Linked DNA regions of Homo sapiens. The protein of the gene in region 1 interacts with the protein of each later gene in a pairwise test. Each region holds a gene or a part of one and is shown on either strand. Other genes may lie near its edges. The genes, in order: TTC23, FSD2, CTNNA3 and KRT16.

Region 1 (7,359 bases):
TCCTTTCATATTCTGACCACCTCCAATCTATCACAAGGCTAGTGGCCTCTATCTCCCAAATACATCTCAAATCCATCCAAATCTCTCCATCTGCCAAAACCACAAGCCACAGTCATCTCCTGCCTGGCCAACAGTATTACCAGTCTCCCTGTGTCCACTCTAGTCACTTCCAACACATTAATCCCAGCAATGGGCCTTTAAAAATGTACATCCAATTACATCTCACTCTTTTCGGTACACATCTTACTAAATAAACCCTTCAGAAACTTCTTACTTAGAAAATCAACTCATACTAGGCCTTGAGGGTGCCTCACCATCTGCCCCCACCCACTTCTCCAGCAACTCTGCTTGGCTTCTCACCAAGCTTCTGGGCTTTTCCAATCCTCAAAGCTACTAAACCCCTAACAGCACTTGCTGGTCTCCTCTTAGCCTAGAAAGCAATGTCCCATCATTCTCCAGATTTCAACATAAAAATTACTTCCTGAGACCGGGCGCAGTGGCTCACGCCTGTAATCCTAGCACTTTGGGAGGCCGAGGAGGGTGGATCACCTGAGGTGAGGAGTTCGAGACCAGCCTGGCCAACTTGGCGAAACCCCATCTCTACTAAAAATACAAAAATTAGCTGGGTTTGGTGGCGGGCGCCTGTAATCCCAGCTACTCGGGAGACTGAGGCAGGAGAATCTCTTGAAACCGGGAGGCGGAGCTTGCAGTAAACCGAGATCGCACCACTGCACTCCAACCTGAGCGACAGAGCGAGACTCAGTCTTAAAAAAAAAAAAATCACTTCCCTATCCCAAAGTAATTCCCCTGGTGTTCTTTCAGAGGAACTTGGCTGTTTGTTTTTTCTTCGTAGGACTCCTCACAATTTGTCACTTAAATATTTATCGTTGCATCTGTCTATTGTCAATAAAGCCAAAAAGCCTGTAAATAAACCCTTCCGAAACTTATTTAGAAATCCTGAGGGCAGGGACTGCGTTGTTTTCTTCACGCTTGCATACCTGCATCTAGCACAGTAACTAAAAGTAACCCTTCCTAAAACCTAGGTGATGGGTTGACAGGTGCAGCAAATCACCATGGCACACGTTTACCTATGTAACAAACCGGCATATTCTGCACATGTATCCAGGGACTTAAAATTTTAAAGTAGGCCTTCTAATATCTGATGACATGTGGAAGAACATTGCAAGGTTGATTTTTCATCCAACTATGTCAAGACCACGGATAGAGCCTATAAGCTTGCTACATGCCACAAGGATGTCTAATCTTTACAACCATGCACTGCAATAGACATTATGTAGCCCGTTTTGTAGAGGAGGAAACTGAGTTTCTCAGAGGGTAACATGCCATAGTTCCATCGCAGGTGGACTGACTACAAAGCGTGTGCACCGCCGCCCTATAATGCAAAACCACACTCACTGAAGGAAGATTCAATAAGACAGTCCCTGTAACCTGACGGCTTTCCTTCTGAATGTTCTGGCTGGGATTGGCTGCCTCAAAAACACCATTACACTCTGTTAAAATTGCTACAAAGGCTGTTTGGGAGATAAAATCTAAACAAATGAAATCCTAAAACTGCCAATAATAGCAATAAAGCATCAACAATGCTCACAGTTTTGCAGTATGCATTCACGGGCCATACACAGCCTTTAACAAGGTAATTTTCTTACCCCATTTCACTTGACTACATCTTACCTAGTTAAGCAAACTACCTCTTGTATAGTTATACTACCTCTTATGTAGTTAAGGCAAATAGTATTACTTAATATCAGCTGTATACAGCTGCACTTACACACGAGCTTTCTGACAGGTGAACACCAATCTATCTTATTATTAAAAACAAAACAAAAAAATCAAAAACCTCTCAACAAAATTCCACACATATTAAGGAGTATTTTGAAAGGAAGGAGTCCCTTATACTGACCTCCCCGTACTCAATTTAGTAGAATACGCATTCCAATTTCCTAACGCTGGAGATTAGAGAACTATAAGCTACATATTAAAAGCATTTGTAAAAGGCTATTTTCTCAGCTGTGGTAACAAACACTGGCAGAGTCTTAGGCAAAACACACGCCGTTTCGCCCGAGTTAGCCAGCCACTGAGATCGTTACAGTTGGGAAGCAGCGAGCCCAGCAGCAGGGATTTCACGGACCCGGTATCAGGGTTCTCGGGTCCCAGGGGCCGCGGGCCGCAGAGTGGGAGGAGGACCCGGCAGCTGTGGCCACCCGAGGCCCGGACGGCTCCGCTGTCCCACTCGCCGCGACCCGGACGCTTTGGCAGGACCACGTCTGGGGCGTCCCCGCCGGGGGGCCGGGTCAGAGAGCCTCGCCACTTGAATCACCCGACGAGGCGGACAGCTCTACTCACCTCAGCGCCAGCAGAGCCAGCGCTCCGGAGCGCAAGCGGCGCTGGAAGCCAAGCGGGGGACGGCGGGCGGGGCGGGGCAGGGAGCCAGGCGAGGGCGGGGCGGAGCGCCGGGCGTCGGGGGCGGGGCTCCGGGGGTGGAGCGGAACCCGCGCCAGAGGGAGCTGGGGAAGAGGGAGCGGGAGAGGAGCACGGAACCTCGCGATAATCCCCTGTGTTCTCGCGCTTTCACGATAGGCGCGGGAAAATGCTCGTTTGCCAAGCGATCTGTGTATTGGCCGAGAGCGCTACTTCCTCTATGCTGGCCCCGCCCGCGGCTCTACTCTTGCTTCCGGCTCCGGCGTGGGGTTTGATGTCGACGGAGTGGCTTTTGCTTAGCGTCTTGAAGGGGTAATTTAGTCGGCTCCAACTTCGGGAACCGCCAGTTACTGACCTGTTCCTTCATTCATACATTCATTCAGTCACTCGGCTTCTCATTCAGAGCACACGTTGAGGGATTACAACAATGATCCCACGTTGAGCGTTCGTTCTAAGAGCTGTTTATAGATTATCTCGTTGAACCCTTGACAGCAATCCCATGACACAGGGACTAACAGCGCCAGTCTGACCGTTGAAAAACAGGCCAGTGGGTTTATGTAACGAAGCCAACGTTATTTAGCAAGTAGTGAGTCTAAGCACCGGATTTAAGGGGTCACTACGAACTGGTAGATAACAAAGATGAGGAGGACGTAACCTAGTCTCTGCCCTTCAAACACCCAAGGTTTATTTTGAGTAAAGATTGCTAAAAAGGTCAGGAACAATTTAGAGAGTTAAATACAATGACACTTCCTAGCCTGACTGAGTAGGCCGTCAATATGTATTTCTTCAAGACGAAAATTATTATGTCAGCGAAATAGCATGAAAGAGGGCTTTATGCTGTTAAAAATACTTGGAAGCATAGTTCGGAAACATTTTTAAAAGACACTTTTTAAAGTGTCTCATTAATATGACAAATTTCCTTCTGAAATGAAGATTTTAAAGTATAATCCTCTACTACAACCGCTGATATTTTTTGTTCTGTGGAAAGCCTGTCTATGAGTTTGCGAGGCTCCTTGTCAAGGAACTTTAACTTTATAATGAAGTAGTTTTTACAGTTGCTGACTTAATTATTCATAGAGACGAATAACCTAGAAAGCAGAGTTATATTAAATAAAAAACATTGGTTTTAAAACAAGGTATGAGTTATAATAAAAATTATCAGTTATCTATTAAATCTGGTCTTCAAGAGCTATTCAGGTATACAGCATGGTTGGTATATGTCATGTATTTCTAAGATAGTTTCGGAATACCTAAGAATTCGTGGCACTCAGAAATTTTTTGCTGGTCTTAAAATGAGGAAATCCACATTTTGTGTAAAAACAAAGATACGGTGTTTAATGGTCAGCCCAAATAATAAGACTTGCTGCTAATATATGAAGAGTTACACCCCCCAAAAAAGAAAAAAGATTAACAGTAGAACAGTTTTTTGAAAACAATGTTAGCCTCTTAGTTTTCATTTCTTTTTTTTAATGGGGAATACTGTTTTTCAGTGATTAATATCTGATATTTGATCATGAAAAATGAATCATGTTAAAATAACCTTCACCTCCTCCCCACATTGACACAAAAGTTACCAAGTGATTATATTTGATAATACTTTATGACCCCACTCTTGAAGTTCTCACAATTTGTAGAGAATCAATTCGCACGTTTTGTCTCTCTTAAAGGGGAAAAAAATCCTCTAAGCTGGTGATTTCACGTTCTTTGACAAACTTCAATATCAACAGGCAACGATACCACTTTAAGAAAATTCCAAGGAAAAGACCTCATTTTAAAATTCCCACCTCTGGCTCCCAAAGATTGGTTTGCAAACTTCGACAAAATACTCTTCTCCACTCGCTATTGGTGAGTGCTCTATCATTCATTCTTTTGCCTGGAGTTTTGTGAGGTACCCGCTTGCTTTATGGGAAAAGGCTGCTCCGGAACTGCCCTACTTTAGACTTTTTCATGGTTATCAATCTGTACAAAGAATCACCAAACTGATAAAGCAGGAACCAGAGGGCAAATCACGCTGCCAAGACAACTGTGTAATTCGCTCGAAAAAGAAACGGTGAGCCTCTCCAGCAGACTGGGTAAACTGGCAAGGGATTTTACGACATAGTTGGAGATTGGAGAGTTACAGAAACTTTTCCGGTTTTTTACAAGTTTTAAAGGAGTGATTGAGTGTCAAAGGAAAAGCAGAGAAAATACAGGCACAATTTAAAGACAGCAGGAAGAAGAGTGTTCAGAGAGCATTTTTCTCTTTAGGGTGAAGTTTGAAAGCATCATGCCCAGATTATCAGTGGATTTTTGAAAGGTAAAGGAGGCAAGATAATAAGATTAACTATAGATCATTTTCTACTTTAAGAAACTGTGCTTCGTTATTGTTGCTTAAGTGTGGATTTAGAAGGACATTTAGTAATATTGTAATTTTTATATGGATATTTTTGTTTATATATTGTCATACCTGGCATAATAGATAATATATCTATTAAAAGATATAGGAGAAAATAGAGTTGCTTGAACCCAAATTTTGTGTATATTTGTGGATTAGGGATTCCAGGGACAGATCTGCTAATGGCTGAACAAAACATACTACAGATACCTGAAGCAGAATCAGCATGTAAGGGTAAATTCTCAAAAAAATCCAGCAATCATATTTCAAAAATGACATTTTTAATTAAAACAAATACAAAAGAATTTATCAAGGAAACGTTGATGAACATGACTATTTCTTAAGTTGCCTGTGTTAATCCATATAGGGGAATATAAAGTAATAAAATCCAGCCCCTCAAGAGCAGGGACAAATGAGGCTCAGAACATTTAAACTAAAACTTCTGAACAGTTCTTAATGCCCGGATGACTGTTGTAGAGCACAGGTGCTTCAGGAGCTCAGCTCAATGTGAGATGAATTATTCAGAGAAGGCTTCACAGTATGGGTAAGACTCAATTTGGGCCTGAGCAATGGGCAGAATTTCAGAGAGAAAAATAAGGGAAGTGGCATCCCTACTAGTGAGTGAGTTGTTAGCAAATACATGCAGCCTGAGGAAGAGTTGGTTCTGACTGCGGCAGAAGGTTCATTTGGAAACTTTGGTTACAAATTTTAAAAAGCAGCATGAGAAATATAAAGAGCCGGAATTCCCAAAATCAGGGGTTTGGGTCCTGTGTTTGGAACAGGAGGCACCCCTTATGAAAGTAATATTTGAAGACAATAAAACTGACAGTGGAATTTAAGATGGCTAGACCAGAGCAGAGACCAGAAGCTAAGGGGCCCCATGCTGTGTAAATACTGGCACACAGGTTAGTAACCATGCTTCTTACCCGAATACATTTACCTTATCATTGTTGAATAATATAAATTTTGATGCACTTCTTTGTAGTCTTCGAAAGCATTGAGTTTACTTCTTTAAGATTTTTGGGGACCGCTGCCACACTGTCTTGGGGAGTCATGGTTGCCCCGTCTTTATAAAAGTCTTGTCATAATATGTATAAAAACCAGAATTACACATAAAACTGCGTTGTGGTTTCATAGCTATTTTTAACAGCTTTAATGAAGTATAATTTATATATTATAAAGTTCATTTGTCTTAAGGATATAACTCAATGATTGTTTTAGAAAATCACAACCATCACCACATTCCAATTTTAGAAAATTTTCATCATCCTAGAAAATTTAGAAAATTTTCATCATCCTAGAAAATTTAGAAAATTTTCATCATCCTAGAAAATTTAGAAAATTTTCATCATCCTAAAAAAATACTTTGTGCCCATTTGCAGGCAAGTCCTGGTTTCCTATCCCCAGCCCCAATCACTAAAAAACTTTCTGTCTATAAATTTACCTTTTCTGGGCATGTAAGTGGAATTACACATTATGCGATCCTTTGCATCTAGTTTCTTTTACTTAGCATAATGTTTTTGAGGTTCATCCATGTTGTAGTATGTCTCATTACTTCATTCCTTTTTATTGCTAAGTAATAATCCACATTTTATTTAACAGTACCAATTAACAGACATTTGGATTTCTTCTAGTATTTAAATATAGTGTTTAATTGTACTAATTGTAATTGTATTACAGTAAATACAGTACAGTATTTAGCATTATGAATAATGCTGCTATGAAGATGGGTACAAGTTTTTGTATGAACGTGTGTTTTCAGTTTTCTTGGGTGTATATCTACGAGTGGAATTACTGTCATATGGTAACTCTGGGTGTAACTTTTCAAGGTGTTGCACAACTGCTTTCCAAGGTGAATTTCCCATTTTACATTTCCACCAGAGTGTATGAGGGTTCCAATTTGTCCACATCCTCACCAACACTCCTTATGATCTGTCTTATTCATTGTAGTCATTCAGCTGGATTTTAAGTGGTATCTTATTACAGCTTTCATTTGCATTTTCCTGATGACTGACGATATGAAGCATCTTTTCATGTGCTTGTTGACTATCCATATATCTTCTTTTGTAAAATGTCTTTCAAATATTTTGCCTATTTTTTTAATTGAGTTGTCATCTTGTTACTGATTGTTTTTTGGTTTTTTTGGTTTTTGTTTGTTTGTTTGTTTGTTTGAGACTGGGTCTCGCTTTGTCGCTCAGGCTGGAGTGCAGAGTGCCACGATCTCGGCCCACTGCAATGTCCACCTTCCGGGTTCAAGCAATTCTTCTGCCTCAGCCTCCCGAGTAGCTAGGATTACAGGTGCCCACGACCACGCCCAGCTAATTTTTTGTATTTTTAGTAGAGACGGGGCTTCACCATGTTGGCCAGGCAGGTCTCGAACTCCTGAACTCGTGATCCACCTGCCTTGGCCTCCCAAAGTGCTGGGATTACAGGCATGAGCCATCGCGCCAGCCCATGTTAATAAATTTTTTTTTTTTTGACACGGAGTGTCACTCTGTCACCCGGGCTGGAGTACAGTGGCTCGATCTCAGCTCACTGCAACCTCT
Region 2 (7,035 bases), about 16 Mb from region 1:
CAAATTGATAAGGGTTGGACTCAGTGACCACAAGGGCTCGCAGAACCTATGAGTTTACAGCAGCCTATGATGGAGGAAGCATAGGTTTACCTCTGGTTTACAGAAGTTTGTGAAAGGGGATGAACCACCCAGGCAGGCCAGCACCAGCCACCAGGACCAGGGGCTCCCCTGCTGTGGAACACAGGGGTGCACTGACCTGGAGCTGGAGAAATGAAGAGGTGTTGGTGTCAATTGTTAGGGAAGCAGATTCTTCTATGCTAAATGCCAGGCTTGAAACGTGGCCATATGCCACCCATCCATCTGTTCCAGGTGGAATCTGTGTGTCCATGGCCACACAGAGGCTGACTTTGGTAATCCACTCTGGAGATACTCAGGAGTGGGGCAGTGTGTCCAGTGGTTCTGGCCATCCTAATGGTTCAGGTTTCCTTTGCAATTTATGCTGATACTTTAGGAGCACTTGACACCTGGGACCAACTCACAATGATGAGGTCATCAGAGGGCTGGTCAGTAACCTGAGAGATGACCTGAGAGCTGGTGCATATTCTTCCAGTACAAATCCAATCATGGCGACCCATTGCTGAAGAAAAGGCAAAACTCCTTCACAGGCTCTGGCCCCTTCCTGCCTCTCCAGCTCCTCCCACACCAGCTCCCCTCCCTCTCAAGATCCCACCACATTGGTCATGTTTCAGTTCCTCCTACTTTTCATGCTCCTTCCTGCCACAGGGCCTTGGCACATGCTTCTCCTATGTAGGAGACTCCTCTGTCCCTTTTTCATCCAGTTACCTCCTCAGCATTCTTCAGAGCTCTGCTCAAAAGCCATCCTGCCCCCACCATTATACACTACAGCACACTATCAACTTGTCTTGGTTACCATCTTACATTCCTTCCAGTGATTGCCTGAAGAATGCTGCTCTTCCCATCTAGACTGTAAGCTCTATGAGGGCAGGAACTACATTTGTTTTTTCTGAGGGCCTCCCTATACAGTGCCTGGAACCTAAGGAGTTTAGTTAACATTTATTGAATGCATAAGTAAAAGTGCCCCTCTGGCCCAGAGCTGCAGCCTGAAGATAACCTGGACAACTTGGCCTCATCTGGGTGAGGGTGTTGTATTGGTAAATGGGCATCATCCTAAAGACTTCTCTTGCCCACTGGACTGACATGGGGTTGGCAACCGCAGCAATATAGACAGTGGCAATTATGAGCTTATATTTCTGTATAGTACAATTTAAATACATTGGATTATTTCCAATAGGCAGCTGTTAGGGGGTTAACAGCAGTTAACACTTTCAGCTCTAGTCAGAATTGTTTGCTCATAAACATAAATCAAGGACCTTTTTTTTTTTTTTTTTGAGACAGTCTCACTCTGTCGCCCAGGAGTGCAGTGGCGTGATGATCTCGGTTCACTGCAACCTCCAACTCCCAGGTTCAAGCAATTCTCCTGCCTCAGCCTCCTGAGTAGCTGGAATTACAGGCACCTGCCACCACACTCGGTTAATTTTTGCATTTTTAGTAGAGACGGGGTTTCACCATGTTGGCTAGGCTGATCTCGAACTCCTGACCTCAAGTGACCCACCCGCCTCAGCCTCCCAAAGTGCTGGAATTACAGGCATGAGCCATTGCACCTGGCTGAATTGACGGCCTTCTATGGGCCCAGTACTGTACTAAGAATAGCGGTACTCAGCCCCTGACCTCAGAGACATTATGATCCTAACAGACGGACAGAGACACACTGGATTCTACTGCATGCACACTCCATGATGCAGTGTTAACCATATGCCAAGCACAGTGCTGGGTGCCTGGGAAACCAGAATGAGGGACTTGGAGAGGAGACAGCCACAAACACAAGAAGTAGCAATGAAGTGAGAAAAGCAGACCAGAGACTGTGGGAGGGAATGCAGAGGGGGAGCCAGCACTCCTGGCTATGCTGCTGTTAAATGTGGGTCAGAGGACAGGAGCGCAAGAGTGAGTTAAACCTTCCAGCTTTGAAAGGGATGCCTGGTGCTTGGGCCTGGGTGTCCTAGCCCCATTCTGACTGCAGCTCTGCTTCCTTGTACAGGTCTGTTGTGGGCATCCCGACCTGCGAGTCCGTGGTGCAGCTGCAGCCGGGGCGGAGCTACATTATCTATGTGCGAGCCCTCAATATGGGGGGCCCCAGCGTGAGGAGCGAGCCAGCTACAGTCCACACCATAGGTCTGTGCCCCAGCCCACAAAGTCTCTGGGACCCAAAGTGGCCACTCTGTGGCAGACCCAGTGCTGCTATGACTTCACTGGGAAATTGATGAATATGCACAGATGTGGACACGTGGCAAGTCAGGCCAGAAGGAGTTCAGGGGTGTCCCATACTGCCCTAATTGCAAGTCAAATGGATCATTAAGAAGTCCTTCAATTCCTATTTCCCTTGGCAAATAGGTTAGAAATTCTTATCCATACACAGGCATTACAGCTAGAGGTAAAGAGCACAGCCTCTGGAATCAGAGGGGCTTGGGGTTCAAGTTTAAGTTCTATCATTTGCCAGCTGATTTCTTAACCACCTTGTGCCTCTGTTTCCTCATCTACAAAATGGAAATAGTGACACCTGTTTCTAAGGGTCGTCGTGAGGATTGAAGGGGATACTAGGCACACAAGACTGCCCGATGAGTGTCAATTGCCATCCTTGTTAACTGGACGCCTATTACTAGGCCAGGTCCAGGCTTAGGTGTATCCCACACGAAGCTAAACCGGTGACCACCGCCCACATGGAGAAAGCAAGTGATTGGCTGCGGGTCTTCTGTGTGTTCCTCCTCCCACAGGAAGCTACTTTCGCCTAAACAAGGACACTTGCCATCCCTGGCTGACCATTTCTGAAGACGGACTTACGGCTGTACGAAGTGAAAGGAGAACCCCCGCCAGGGAGCTGTCACCCAGCGACACTCACTTCACCAGGTACTTTGTCAACCGCTCACAAGGGCGTTCTGTGAACTTCCCGAAGGTGCACTGTTATTCAGGTCAAATCCGAATATGGCACGGAGGCAGCCTCGAGGGAAAAGGAATCCTACAAATGAGTGAGGAGGGAGGAGCCTAATGGGGAGGGGACCCAGAGGAGTGTGGGCAAGAGGGGTCAGGCAGGTGCAGGCAGAAGAGCCCCCTGGGACGGTGAGGTCAGGAGAGGGCGCGGTCCCCTGGGAGGGCATGGTCCCTGGGTCCTAGGCTGCCAGAGCTGGAGCAGCCAGAGGTCATGAGGGTGGGACAGGAATTACTAGTGGAGGGTGTCCAAGTTCTTGGCGTTCTGAACAAAGAATTGGACAAAATGCACAAACAAAGCAAGGAAAGAGGCCAGGCACGGTGGCTCATGCCTGTAATCACAGCACTTTGGGAAGCCGAGGCAGGCAGATCACCTGAGGTCAGGAGTTTGAGACCAGCTTGGTCAACATGCTGAAACCCCATCTCTACTAAAAATATAAAAATTAGCCGGGCCTGTTGCGGGTGCCTGTAATCCCAGCTACTCGGGAGGCTGAGGCAGAAGAATTGCTTGAACCCGCGGGGCGGAGATGGCGCCACTACACTCTAGCCTGGGCAACAGAGTGAGACTCCTTCTCAAAAAAAAAAAAAAAAAAAAGCAAGTAAAGAATGAAGCAACAAGAGCAGAGATTTATTGAAAACGAAAGCACACTCCACAGGGTGGGAGTGGGCCAAGCAAGCGGCTTAAGGGCCGGGTTACAGAATTTTCTGGGGTTTAAATATCCTCTAGAGGTTCCCACTGGTTACTTGGTGTACACCCTATGTATATGAAGTGGCTAAAGTGAAGTTACAAAGTCATTTACTGGGTGTACACCCTATGCAAATGAAGAGGATGTTTCCTGCCATGCTGAAATACAAAGCTATTTACTTGGACTTAGAAGGTTGGGGTTTTTCCGTTTAATTTAGTTCTAGGAAGTCCTTAGGTTCCCTGCCCCCAGACCCTGTTCTCCTGCTTCACAGGGGTCATGCTGTGGGCTAGTGGGAGAACAGAAACAAGGACCCAGGTCTCCCACCAGTTAGCCCAGTGCTCTCTCTCCTGCACTGTGGTACCTTACAGCAAAACTCCTGATGGAAAACTGGCCATGGAGTGAGTCTGTTCCAAAGTTCAAGGCAGATAATTGCTTTGTACATGTACATATGAAAGAAGCCGGAAAGATCATGTTTGGAGAAATATAAGGAATTTGGTATGTCTGCGGTATAGGATCCATGACGGGAAGAGGTGGAAGATGAGGCAGGAAAGTCGGAGAAAGTCCAGTATACACACAAAAAGTTAGGATTTTATCCTCTATGTGGTGAGAATTATTGGAGGATTTAAAGCAGGGGAACAAGATCAGATTACATTTCAGAAAGATTCCAGTGCATGGTAGAACGTGAGCTGGGGAGGGAGAGGGAAAGGCAAAGGCAGATGGGAAACAGAGACCAGAGAGGAGACTATGGAGGGCTTGACTACGCAGTAGCATGGGTGAGAGGAGCCAGGGGAGTCAACTGCTGTTGAGCACATAAAACCAACAAGGCTAGGTGCTCACCTGTTTAAAGGGCAACAGAGAGGAAGATGAGTCAGGGACTATCATATTGCCATATTTATAGAGTGCTTACCAAGTGCTAAATGTATTTCATCTCATGCAATCATCCTAACAGCCCTGTACTATTACCAATCCCAGTTGACGGATGAGAATACTTAAAACACAGAGAAGTAACTTGCCCAAGAGTATAATGCTATTAAGGGTTGAAGCAGGAATCAAACTAGAAGGTGAGCTTGTAGCCACTACATTATTCCCATCTTAGTTTTCCACCAGGGGGTTACCGGGTAGATAATGACTCTATTAACCAAAATGGAGATGTGAGAAGTATGTACCCCTCCCCACTACACCCCAAACTTTGGTAGATAAGAGGGGTGGGAATATGACTTTTTCCATTTGGGACATTCTGAATTTGAAACAACAAGTGGAAATGTGAGTCTGGAGCTTGAAGCAGAGATGGCCTCATTTTATAGGTGAGGTAACCGAGGTAGAAGTTAACCAACATGCAACCTCCTTCCCAAAGCTTTGCTTGAGCAGTAAGAACTTGGGGTTTTGAAAGTAGAGAGAAAATTTTAAACTGAACAAATCTTTCTAGGGATGTTGAGGTCTATATATATTTTGGTTAATGTAGGAGTCTCCTGAAGAAGGTAGAATATTCACTTTGGAGATACCAGTATAATTTGATTTTCACTGAAAACCTTCCTCTGTTGATACTTTGCTGATGTAGAACAAAACATAACTCTAATCTTTGTCAGTATAATTGTTCCCAGTGCAACAGTGGAGGTAGATTTTAATGATCTGTGAGGAATCTGCTATCTTGTTCTCCTTGGGCTGGCCTCTGAATTCCACCAGGAGTCATCCCTAACATGATGGCTACCTCAAAGGCCTTCCATGTTCATTTAGTACCATAAGCAATGGTGGTGAACTTCAAGCTTATGGTTCCCTTAACCGTGCTGTGTTGTGTATTTTCAACCCTTTTCTTTTTTTATGAACAAGTGAACCAAACCTTTTTCTATGAAAGCCCCAACCATTTTAAAGAGCAAACAAAACTTGTTCTGTTGGTTTAGTGCCTCCTCCTCTCCCATTACCAAGCAGTAACATAATCTCAAATCTTCAGTATCAGCCCACTGAGCTTTGAGAGCTAAGGGTACTTTACAAGTTAAGTGTCCAGAAGCACCTACCACCACGTTCGTAGACCACCGACTGACTGATCCCAGCAACTGGCATCACTGACCTGCACAGCCAGGCTTGGGGCACCCCAGATCACACATGCTTCCACTTTCTAAAACCAGGTGTGTTGCTGTCATGGGAAATCTAATTCCAGTCCGAGGGCACCATTACTGGGAGGTGGAGGTGGATGAGCATTTGGACTACAGAGTTGGTGTGGCCTTTGCAGATGTCCGTAAACAGGAGGATCTGGGAGCAAATTGCCTCTCCTGGTGCATGAGGCACACATTTGCATCATCAAGGTAAAGTAAAATCTGGATACTCACAATTAAAATTTGCTTTTGAAAGATTACAGCAAGACCTTTTCACTAGCAATAATTAAGACACACGTTATATTTTACAAATATTTTAAGATATTTCAGGAGTTGCTGCCAGCCACTTTCCCTAAAGTCCAAGTAAGAGGAGAAAGAGCAGCTTTTCTTCAACTAAAAATAGCTAAAATTTATGGAGAATTATGTGCCAAGTACTCTTACATGCATTATCTCATTTACTTCTCACAATTGTGTTATCTCATTTGAAAAATCAGAATGCTGGGTGCAGTGGTGTGCACCTGTAGTCCCAGCTACTCAGGAGAGTGAGGTAGGAGTATTGTTTGAGCCCTGGACTTCAAAGCCAGCTTGGGCAACATAGCAAGACCCCGTCTCTAAAAAAAAAAAAATAATAAAATAAAAAAATAAAATAAAATAAAAGAATAAAAATAAGAAGACCACACCTCACAGCAATTAGATAATCCAAACGACATGGATTTGGAACTTGGATTCAAACTCAAGCAGTCTGGTTCCAAAGATTTCATTCCTAACCACTTAAGTGATAGATTTTTCATTTCTGTTCACCTTTAGTATTAAGCCAATACAGTTTGCTTTGAAGCCCCAGTTCCATCTTTTTAAGTAAATGTGGGCAAGAGGCTTAGTAGTTATGGCTAATTCTGGTTTGCTCCTGCTGCTGGGCACTCTGTCTTTACACATGGAGTAGTTCCATATAGTGGGAAAAAAAGTCTCACGAAGCCCAGGCCAATGAATACACTTTCAGACTTAGAAGGCCATGGTTACAACCTTCCTTCACCTCAAAAACTGAAAAACAAGACCCCACACTGCTTTCCTATCACACCTTGTAAAATGGGGCCTCTGACCCTCCTTGATTTGATGAATCCTATTAATGTTCATCCAATGCTCTCTGCCCATGATCCTCTATCATGGTTATTTACACATTATGTGTCATGCCCAAGCATAAGTGGGAAAACCAACTTCCCCTCCGATAACAGATGAAGACTCTAATGAAATCTACTAAACCT
Region 3 (3,208 bases), on another chromosome or scaffold:
AGGTGAAATTCTTCCCAATATTAGAGCCAATCTGGGTTACCATACGTTCATATATTTAACAGCTATTTGTTAAACAACTGTGATGTTCCAGGCACTGTTCTAGGTTCTTAGGATACACCATATAACAAAACAAATAGTGATCCTTGCCCTCATGTGCCAGCTCTGTGTTAAATGCTAACTATTATCTTATTCAATCCTCCAAATAACCCTATAGGATATATATCATTCCACAGACAAGGAAGCTGAGGGTTAAATGGGATAAGAATCTTGCTCAAAGTCTCACTGGCTTTAAAATATTAATATATATTTTACATCATTCAAGACAGATATATAATTAGCTGAATATTCTCACCTCTATTAACTGAATGTAGAGTGTCAGGTACATGGGAAGTAAGTTATTTACGTGATCTGAAATAAGAGGACAACCTTTGCCAAATTACTTTTATTACCATGGAGAAGAAAGCTTCAATGAAATGCCTGTTTCAGCCCATCTTCAGTATTGGTTGGTTAATACCATTTGTTAACACCAATCCTTTCCTCTTTTACTGCTAACATGTGACTGTGTTTAAAATTATAGATTGCAGCAGAGTGTTGGCCAAGGATTATTGTAGTAGGATAAAGTTTCCCTGTATTTGAAATTTACCCAAACTGTAGCAAATACATCTTTCCTTCTTTATGGAGGTCACACGTGTGCATAGTATGTGCCTGAATACAGGTAAACTTTGTGTTTTAAAATTACATGGCCTTTTTTAGAGTCGACTGAAGGCTAGACTCTTCTTGCCCATGTTGCTGGATAGGCTTTCAAATCTCAGGCCTTGGAGAGTTAAATGACTTTCTGATATTTCTTACGGTGGAGCCACATAAGAAATACACACATTCCTAGTTTGAGCAATGGATGTGTATATTGGGGATCTTCACTTTTATGTATCTGGTAGTCATGATGGTGCCTATTCCCAACTGTAGGAAAGGAAAGCCCTCAAGGAGAAAATTCTCTTTCAAAAAGGCTCAGATTTCTAACAATTATGTCTAAATGTTTCTTCAATTTAGAACATGTACAAAAGCTACTTAATATTAGCAGAGTAGTTCTTGTGTTTTCATTTCAAATGAAATATTCCCAGTTCCAAAGTTTATTTCCTTGGCATTTTCAAGAAGGATGGTTATTTTTAGTTCTGGTTATTTGGTGTTGGAGGTCTGTGACACTTCCTTATACATTTAAAGCCCCCTTTGAATAGTTGTATCAATAGTTCAAAAGCCTGTAGATATCTTGCTTTTCTATTCTGACAGCCCAGCTTCTGCAGACTCAGGCCAACCTTAGGTATGTCACATCAGTTCCCCATCTGTGTAAATTACCTGAACCTCTCTGTGGTATTCACTGAGAGTTGAGCTTCTACTAAGGGATTTCCTTGACCTGGGCTTTTAACACCAGATTTGTAGTGGAGTGTTTATTAGTAAAGCAAAGGAGTAAGTCAGAGATGCTAGCCCCTGCTCTCAGTTAAACAGAACTATCCTCCTTCCTGAATATTTAAACATAAAATTAATTTTAAACTACTATAAAAATCATGTTCCATTGCTTGCCAAATCTTATACCATTATAATGCTGTATTTTTACATGTTAGTATACATTGTGTCCATAGGGATATAAATATGAGAATTTCAGCAACTGTCTTGCAGGGTTAAGATGTGCTATTTGTTGATTTTGCAAATTTTTCTCATGTGGTACAGTCCCTCCAAAGAAAATTTCCTTAGACCTAAATGGTAGCATAATAATTTCTCCTCCATATCCGTGACTAACAAGTTCCTGAAAACAGAAGTAGACATATTTTATGCCCAATTTAGTACCTAATAATTGAGGCTTAAAACAAAATTTTCTTGGGCAAGTTGGGTGATTAAATATGAATTAAAACTTCTAGAGAAAGATTTCCAGATGCCCCTGTTTTCCATTTTGATTATGGTTTTAGTTTCATAGCAACTTGGGGGAAAAAAATCATTTACTTTATGTCGTATTACAACAACAACTTTGACAGCTTAAATGTAGTGACCTCTCTGAAGGTAATATGCACATTATAATTTAGGATGAAAGCAGATTTAAACTAAGACTTTCTGAGATGAAATAAAAGTAACCAATTCATAATAGTCATGTTTATTGCAGCAATATCTTGGGAACTTAAGTTTAGTGGCGTTTGAGGTGTTTCTGACTATCTTGCTTGTTCATTTCACCCTGCTCTGCAGAGACAGAATATGATTGAATGAACTGCCCATTATATTAATGACCAGTTCAAAGCAGTTTTGTGCTTTGGCTATAGATAAAATTTGGCAAAAATACTGTAGGCCTTTCTGGTCCATATTTATCCTTAAAGTATTTTTGCCAATCAATAAAAATGAAATATTTATCCAGAAATAGAAAAAGCTCTTTCCTATGACATTGACATAGAAGCCCAAATACTCCTTGTTTGAGACCCTGCATGTCTTTTGTGTTTAACTGAATCAATGATTTTTTTTAGTTGTGCTCTTAATTGCATTATTTCACATATGTAACACTGGGTTTGTTTTGGTTATATAGTATTATTTTACTTTATTCTAATTTCAACTCATGTCACTCTGTAGCTCATTAAGAATTTGTTCAACTGAAAATTAAAATGTGTGTTAAAGCAATAAAAATGAAAAGATTGGCTATGCATTTTATGTTGATATTTGGTGGCGGATTTCTTGGGTGGGATGAAAAAAATGGAGATTAATAAATTGCTGAGTAGTCCAACCATGTGTTTCTAAGTGTCACCTTCACTCTCATCCTCTTTCAGTTTTATATTTATAATTCAGGAAGGCACTTTTCCAAACTACTGCATGCACACAAGTAATCTGAAGCATATCTGATAGAATTAAATTCATAGTCTAAATGAGCATTTTTGGTCTAATACAGGCACTAGTCTTGGGCATTAGACATGCCTTTAATAGTTCTGTGTAGCTCAAGAGTTGTTCTTTAGCTTAGGACTTTATGAAAATGATCAATAACTTTTCTGAGAATGTCCGAACACATACTCCCTAGTGGTCATGGAATACCATTGGTTCTACCAATGCTCTTGTATCTAAAAATTGGTGGGTTTTTAACATCCATCTTGGCCTCCTCATTTTTAGGCTGATAATAATCCTTTCTCAGTATGAATCCCATGGGGTTAGCCTCTCGATCCTCTTCCAGGGGTCACACAGGCTG
Region 4 (7,511 bases), on another chromosome or scaffold:
ACTGCACAGAATGTTCCACCCTGTCATCAAGGCAGAAGCTGCAGATCTGTGGTTGCCCTTGGAGCTGCCACACCTGGTCTTGAGTGATGGACACACACATATGATTCTCAGGCCAGGTCCATGCCAGTGGTAGCCTACCTCTGGATCCCCCTTGCAGGGGCTGACCTGGTAGCATGTCCAGGGGGAGATGAGTGTCCCCCACTACATCCATCTCCCTGCAGGACATCCTGCCAGGGGAAGGAGGAGACACCGGTCCTGACCCCAAGAGATAGTGCCTGCCCCGAGGGGACCTGAGGGACTGAAAACAGTCCCTCAGCCTTTATGCAGTGTGGGTCTCTTGTGGCAACCCAGGTTTTGGGGAGATGAGGGGAACAGAGGGAACAGAGCCAGGCAGGTCTCCCCCCATGCACAGAGCTGAGGGGATAACTGAGCTGGACAGAGGCCCGTCCTCACCCTGAGCTGTAGTGACCATTTGAAGAAACATCCCTGAGAGAGGCCCACTCTTTCTCCCACAACCCCCTGGGGTCCGCAGCCTTCCCTGGAGGCACCAGCTTCCTGCTCACATTCCTGGGGTGGGGGCAATGGGAGCCCCTCTTGTGGGTTTCCTGAGACTCACACAGGAGTCCGGGCTCCTTGTTTGTGCAGAACAGGCACCCCAAGTGGGCCCAGGCTGCTGAGGACATGTGCCTGGGCTGGACTGGAGACCCAGCTATGGGACTCATGGAGGGACTCACAGTTCGTCCACACCCACCCTGCCCAATGCACAGAATGTTTCACCCCATCATCAAGGCAGAAGCTGCAGATCTGTGGTTGGATTGTGAAGGGCTATGACAGCCCCACCTTCAGAAGGGGGGCATCAAACATGCAGGAGGGGATAGGAGCCCCAGAGGTGGGCCTGGCACTCACAGATTTCCCCAGATCCCGGGAGCCGTCACAGGGGCAGAGCCTGGGCCTGGACATTTGTTCTCCCCCAGGGACCCTGCTCTCTCTGTTTCTCTGCAGGGCCCCAGTACCCCATCGTGGCCTGACATTAGTGTATTGGGATTGTCTTTACCACCTTCTCCCCCAGAAGACTGTGTCTCCAGGGCTTCTCTGTCTTGTTCTTTGAGTCTGAGTGCCCAGCACAGTGCCAGGCACATAGTAGGCACTTTATAAACACCTGCTCATAAACATAACGCTAGCCACCAGCCTTTTCCAGGTGCTTTATTTATTTGGCCTCGAATCCCCTAATATGCCTGTGAGGCAAGGCTGTTATTCCCATTTCCCAGAGAAGGAAACTGAGGCTCAGAGAGGCTGAATGTCCTGCCCAAGATTTCGCCCCTGCTTGCCCCGATTCTAGGCTGCTCTGTCCTGGCTCAGTGGGGCTCTACTTTTCCTTCCTCCTGCCCTGAAGCCTGTGGCTCTGGCTTGTCCACCCGAGGCTGGGGGCCCTGCAGCAGCCCCCTCTCTCCCCTCAGCTTCTCTGCCCCCCTCCTTAGCCCCCAAGCTGCCTCCTGCCTTCCCAGTCTGAGTTGGCTGGGGAGCTTGTAAAACAGCCCCACCAGCAGGCTTGTCCTGAGCGGTGCTGATGCGGGAGTTGGAGCAGGGCTGCAAATCTTCATGGGGACTCTGACGATCTGTCTGGTTGGAGAATCACTGCAAGTCAAGGCGTGGCATTGGCCAATGGTGTTTCCCGGCTGCCTCAGGTATGCCATGATCTCATGCCTCATGCTTGACATGGGCAGTACGAAGGAGGGAGGAAGGAGGCAGGGTGTGGGGAGGAATCCTCTGCCTGGAGGATGCCCACTGGGCTTCTCTGTGCTCACCAGGCTTAGTGGTCCTGGCTCTTGGCCACCTTGGGGCAGGTGTGCATCACTGGTGCACAGGAAACGCCTCCTCCTCCTCCTCTGTCAACTCAGATCCTCTGAGGCCCTGCTGGTGCCTCTCTCTGCTAGGACCCTTTCAGGGATCAAGGCCAGGAGGGCAGCCCCCTCCTCTACTGCTGAGGCTCAGCGGGGCAATGCCTACCCCAGCTGCCTCCTGTGGTGTGGGCATGGCAGGCAAGCCCAGCACCCCAGGGTTTCTAGCCAGGTTCTGTATTTTCCAGCATTAGTTTTCCCTCCAGGGTCAAATGATAAGTTCTTCTAAGGTCAGAGACTATGTCATCATCTCCCTCTTCACCCCCAGCCCCCGAGAGCTGTACACACAGCAGGTGCGTGATCTATGGAGTTGGCTGAGCAGTTTGGCGCGTTGGTCAGCAACTTCCTGCAGCTTCTCAGCCCATGCAGATCCCCAGGTCTGCAGTGCTGGGCTTGTGTATAATCCCGCCCTGACACCTCCTGGAATGGGGAACTTGGTGGGGGGCAGTGAGCCAATGAGAAAGGGGTGTGTGTGCATGCACACACGATGGGGGCAGAGAGTGAAGAGTTCTCAGAGACTCTACTACGAGAGTCGGTGTGAATCCTGGCTTGGGAGTTAGAGCTGGCTCGAGTCTCTGCTCTCTCACTTTTGTGCTGCTTAACCTGGATAAGGCTTTCGCTCTCTCCAGTTGGGGTATTAATAGCCTTTGGTGACCTTGAAGACCATTTTCAGTTCTGAGGGTGATGGGTCTGTGGATGGACCAGAACTCCAGGCCCAACCTGACACCTGAACACTGAGGTTTTTGTCCAAGATTCCGGGGTCCCCTTTGCCCCTTTTTGGGGTAGGGGTGAGGAGTGTCAGGTTCCCTCTCCCAGGTTTGACTCTGAAGGGATGTGCATCCGTTCTGCTCTTACCTCTGGGATGAATGACCAGGGGAGATGTAGCAGTGACAAAACCCTGGTTCTGCTGAGACAAGGAATTGCCTGCCCCAGTGGAGCTCAGGCAGAAGCAGGCTGTCTCTGGGCTCCTCACCTCAACAGAGACACTGCAGAGCAAGGCCAGTGGCCAGCACCGAGGGATGCCCCACAGCACCCTGAGGAGGCCCCGTCTTGGTGCCCAGACCCCTCCATCCTCCCTCCAGTCCTCGGTGCTGGACCAGGCTCTCAGGCCAAGGCCATGCCCACCATGGGCAGACCTCCTGCCAGTGATCGTGGGGAGGTGGGTGAGAGTTGGGTATACTGGCCCCGCCTGCAGGCATGGTGGGAGCCTGGAGAGGGCCAGAGTTCTGGGTTCTAGTTGCAGCTCTGCAGCTTAAAGCAGAGTGACTTTGAGTGAATCTCTACGCTCACAGAACTGTATGGCACACACTGGGCTCTCCATGCATGCCTGAGTGGGCCCATAACCAGTGCTCTCCCCCAGCTCAGCTGGATGAATGGAGCTGCCAGGCCTAGCCTGGGATCTGTGGACACAGGAGAGAGAACTGCTGGGAACGGATCCCCGGCTAGTCCTGTTTCTACAGGGTAGGGGGGGACTCTGAGGCCCAGGTGGGGTCAGGGGTCATACCTGGCTGTAGTGGCAGGATGGGGCTCCCTCCCACCAGCCTGCAGGTGGGGTGCCTGTGATTAGGAGAGGGCGGTAGAGGAGTGGCAGAGCTAGGTGTGGGGCTGTGGTGTTCTTCAGCTGGGAGTGTGGGGGGCGCAGGGCCCTGCTTAGGGGTGCGGGATGGTGCCAGTGTGTAGAGGTGAGTGTGAGGAGCAGGTGGCTGGAGGGGCAGGATGGGGAGGCTGAGGGGCAGGGCTGGCCCTCGGGGAAGGGCCGGTGGGGTCCTTCGCGCATGTTTCTTTGTGGCTAGTGGTGTGTCATCCCCTTTTACAGATGAGAAAACTGAGGACCAAGGGGCTATAGGACCAGCCTGTGCTGTACAGTTGGTAAGGGCAGAGCAGGGACTCAGTGCCGCCTGTCTAGCTCCATGGCCAGTGCTGTTTGTATGGTGCACACACTTCTGGAGATCCCGGGGGCTCAAGGCAGCCTCTGGAACTGGAATTAGATCCAAGAGGGGAAAGAGAGTTATAGGATTTTTAGAACAGAAGGGACTCTGCAGTCACCCAGTCCAGCCTGGTCACTGAGGGGAAACAGGCCCAGAGGTGGGAGGTGGGGAGCCTCAGGCCACACAGCAAGCAGAGTGAAGACAGGAACTCTGCCCCTGCCCAGAGTGGGACATGTGGGATCCCCACAACTGCTCCCCAAGACAGCCCAGGATGGCATCACTGAGCTCTCTTTCAGCCAAGGCTGTCACTGTGGGGCAGGGAGTTCTTCTGAAGGGCTGACTCACTGCCTGGGGACGCAGTTGCCACAAAGCCACCTGTGCCAAGGCCCGACTGGCCCCGAGGGCTCCAGGAAAGGGAGCCTGATTCCCCACCGCCTAGCCTGAGTCACCACCGAACTCGCATTTCTGTGTTTTTCTCTCGGCCCCACACCCCCAAAGCTGGGTGGGAACTCTGAGCCGGCACACAGCAGAGTTGATCCTGGGCTGAATAATCCAGAGTGAGGAGTTGGACGGGACCGGGAGTGATGAAATCCAGAGGGGAACCTGGAGTCAGCAGTTAGGAGGGCCCCGCCTTCCCCAGCTGCATATAAAGGTCTCTGGGGTTGGAGGCAGCCACAGCACGCTCTCAGCCTTCCTGAGCACCTTTCCTTCTTTCAGCCAACTGCTCACTCGCTCACCTCCCTCCTTGGCACCATGACCACCTGCAGCCGCCAGTTCACCTCCTCCAGCTCCATGAAGGGCTCCTGCGGCATCGGAGGCGGCATCGGGGGCGGCTCCAGCCGCATCTCCTCCGTCCTGGCCGGAGGGTCCTGCCGTGCCCCCAGCACCTACGGGGGCGGCCTGTCTGTCTCCTCTCGCTTCTCCTCTGGGGGAGCCTGCGGGCTGGGGGGCGGCTATGGCGGTGGCTTCAGCAGCAGCAGCAGCTTTGGTAGTGGCTTCGGGGGAGGATATGGTGGTGGCCTTGGTGCTGGCTTCGGTGGTGGCTTGGGTGCTGGCTTTGGTGGTGGTTTTGCTGGTGGTGATGGGCTTCTGGTGGGCAGTGAGAAGGTGACCATGCAGAACCTCAATGACCGCCTGGCCTCCTACCTGGACAAGGTGCGTGCTCTGGAGGAGGCCAACGCCGACCTGGAAGTGAAGATCCGTGACTGGTACCAGAGGCAGCGGCCCAGTGAGATCAAAGACTACAGTCCCTACTTCAAGACCATCGAGGACCTGAGGAACAAGGTGGGTGACTTTGGTGTATGGAGCACTGAGAGAGGCTGGGGCTACAGTGGCCCTTGGGATACCTCTTTTTAGCAATTACACTTTACAAACAGGGAGACTGGGCACCTTTGGGGAGTGGCCAGGATCACCCAGGGAAGTGGTAGCAGAGGGTCCCTTTTCAGTATCTCTGTGCCCGGACTGGGGCTGTTACCCTAAATCTCTTATTTCCTTCAAGGGTTCAGCTGCAAGTTCAGCTTCCCTGCCTTGGGCCCAGGAAGGGGGTGATCGGGATGGAGTGCATCCCTACGTAGCCTGAGCTGGTGGAGAAGGCATGCCAGCCCTGCCAGCCAGAAGACTTCCAGATTTGGGGCGGTTCCTTTTGCCCCTTTCTGCCTTTCATGCTCAAGTAGTAAGGTCCTTGGCTGACCAGGGCTCCTGTCCTCCATCCCCACTCCAGATCATTGCGGCCACCATTGAGAATGCGCAGCCCATTTTGCAGATTGACAATGCCAGGCTGGCAGCCGATGACTTCAGGACCAAGTGAGCAGCCAGCATGGTGGGCTGGGGGCAGAGGGCAAGGGACAAAGAGTGGGGCGGTCCACCCAGCAGGGCCAGCAGACCCCGAGCCTCAGAATCCTCAGGGCTGCAGCCTGAGGACCTGACCTCTGTCCTGCCAGGTATGAGCATGAACTGGCCCTGCGGCAGACTGTGGAGGCCGACGTCAATGGCCTGCGCCGGGTGTTGGATGAGCTGACCCTGGCCAGGACTGACCTGGAGATGCAGATCGAAGGCCTGAAGGAGGAGCTGGCCTACCTGAGGAAGAACCACGAGGAGGTACGGTCGCTGCTGGCTTCCGGGGTGGGAGGCTGGTTTGGTGGGGTTGCCAGATGCACCCAGGGCCAGGAGAGAAGTCTGCTGAACTGACCGCCTCCTGCCATCCCTTCCCAGGAGATGCTTGCTCTGAGAGGTCAGACCGGCGGAGATGTGAACGTGGAGATGGATGCTGCACCTGGCGTGGACCTGAGCCGCATCCTGAATGAGATGCGTGACCAGTACGAGCAGATGGCAGAGAAAAACCGCAGAGACGCTGAGACCTGGTTCCTGAGCAAGGTGGGGCTCGGGCCCGCAGTGAGCCTGCAGCACTTCCCAGCTGGGGGCTTTGGGAGAGCCTCACCTTTCACTCTGCTTTCCTGCCTCAGACCGAGGAGCTGAACAAAGAAGTGGCCTCCAACAGCGAACTGGTACAGAGCAGCCGCAGTGAGGTGACGGAGCTCCGGAGGGTGCTCCAGGGCCTGGAGATTGAGCTGCAGTCCCAGCTCAGCATGGTATGAAGGACCCAGCACAGCAGCAGCCCCCAAGTCACCAGTAATGGCCACCACCCCCTCAAAAAGCCACAGTCTAGTTCCACCTTTCTTTTCTCAGGATGGGACCAGGGGACTCATGGGACCGTTATATAGATAGAGAAACTAAGCCCTAGAATAGTGGGCTAGCTTTTCTCCATATTGTCTGGCCCATCAGTACCCCAACTGGGATCAAAATCCAGGCATCTCTCAAAAAACATGCCCAGAGACCTGGAGGAACAGGAGTGACCACCTCCATGGACTCTTTTTCTCTCTCTCACTTGCAGAAAGCATCCCTGGAGAACAGCCTGGAGGAGACCAAAGGCCGCTACTGCATGCAGCTGTCCCAGATCCAGGGACTGATTGGCAGTGTGGAGGAGCAGCTGGCCCAGCTACGCTGTGAGATGGAGCAGCAGAGCCAGGAGTACCAGATCTTGCTGGATGTGAAGACGCGGCTGGAGCAGGAGATTGCCACCTACCGCCGCCTGCTGGAGGGCGAGGATGCCCAGTGAGTCCCAGGCCCCTCAGTTCTGCCTCCCAGACCCTTTAGCCCCCCTGCTGCTCTCAGCACAACTGACTGCCCTGCTTTTTCTCTCCCACAGCCTTTCCTCCCAGCAAGCATCTGGCCAATCCTATTCTTCCCGCGAGGGTAAGGCTTCTGAGGCTCCCCGGCACTGCAGCCCCTCTGCCTGTTTCCATGGAGTGGGGGCTGGGCCCTTCTCCTCAGAGCTCCCAGCCCTCCCTTCTCCCTGCCCTGGAGTCAGCTTAGCTCTCAGACCCCTTCTCACCTCCTCTTCTCTCTCCCACAGTCTTCACCTCCTCCTCGTCCTCTTCGAGCCGTCAGACCCGGCCCATCCTCAAGGAGCAGAGCTCATCCAGCTTCAGCCAGGGCCAGAGCTCCTAGAACTGAGCTGCCTCTACCACAGCCTCCTGCCCACCAGCTGGCCTCACCTCCTGAAGGCCCGGGTCAGGACCCTGCTCTCCTGGCGCAGTTCCCAGCTATCTCCCCTGCTCCTCTGCTGGTGGTGGGCTAATAAAGCTGACTTTCTGGTTGATGCAAACCTGTGTGATCTCTGTTCTTG

The links.
Region 2: the proteins of TTC23 (region 1) and FSD2 interact in binary tests that used the Homo sapiens proteins (3 or more experiments, as listed by UniProt).
Region 3: the proteins of TTC23 (region 1) and CTNNA3 interact in binary tests that used the Homo sapiens proteins (3 or more experiments, as listed by UniProt).
Region 4: the proteins of TTC23 (region 1) and KRT16 interact in binary tests that used the Homo sapiens proteins (3 or more experiments, as listed by UniProt).

Annotation. Positions count from the first base shown.
Region 1 is NC_000015.10:99,246,547-99,253,905, reverse strand, and holds the start of TTC23 (tetratricopeptide repeat protein 23), read left to right. Parts: upstream 1-4,324; 5' UTR 4,325-4,735; intron 4,736-5,595; exon of another isoform or gene 5,596-5,693; coding exon of another isoform or gene 5,694-5,718; intron 5,719-7,359. UniProt on the Homo sapiens protein: Participates positively in the ciliary Hedgehog (Hh) signaling.
Region 2 is NC_000015.10:82,761,053-82,768,087, reverse strand, and holds part of FSD2 (fibronectin type III and SPRY domain-containing protein 2), read left to right. Parts: intron 1-2,056; coding exon 2,057-2,190; intron 2,191-2,789; coding exon 2,790-2,922; intron 2,923-5,809; coding exon 5,810-5,986; intron 5,987-7,035.
Region 3 is NC_000010.11:65,911,992-65,915,199, reverse strand, and holds the end of CTNNA3 (catenin alpha-3), read left to right. Parts: 3' UTR 1-2,677; downstream 2,678-3,208. UniProt on the Homo sapiens protein: May be involved in formation of stretch-resistant cell-cell adhesion complexes.
Region 4 is NC_000017.11:41,609,757-41,617,267, reverse strand, and holds KRT16 (keratin, type I cytoskeletal 16), read left to right. Parts: upstream 1-4,500; 5' UTR 4,501-4,579; coding exon 4,580-5,110; intron 5,111-5,546; coding exon 5,547-5,629; intron 5,630-5,766; coding exon 5,767-5,923; intron 5,924-6,037; coding exon 6,038-6,199; intron 6,200-6,288; coding exon 6,289-6,414; intron 6,415-6,716; coding exon 6,717-6,937; intron 6,938-7,031; coding exon 7,032-7,078; intron 7,079-7,238; coding exon 7,239-7,333; 3' UTR 7,334-7,490; downstream 7,491-7,511. UniProt on the Homo sapiens protein: Epidermis-specific type I keratin that plays a key role in skin. Acts as a regulator of innate immunity in response to skin barrier breach: required for some inflammatory checkpoint for the skin barrier maintenance.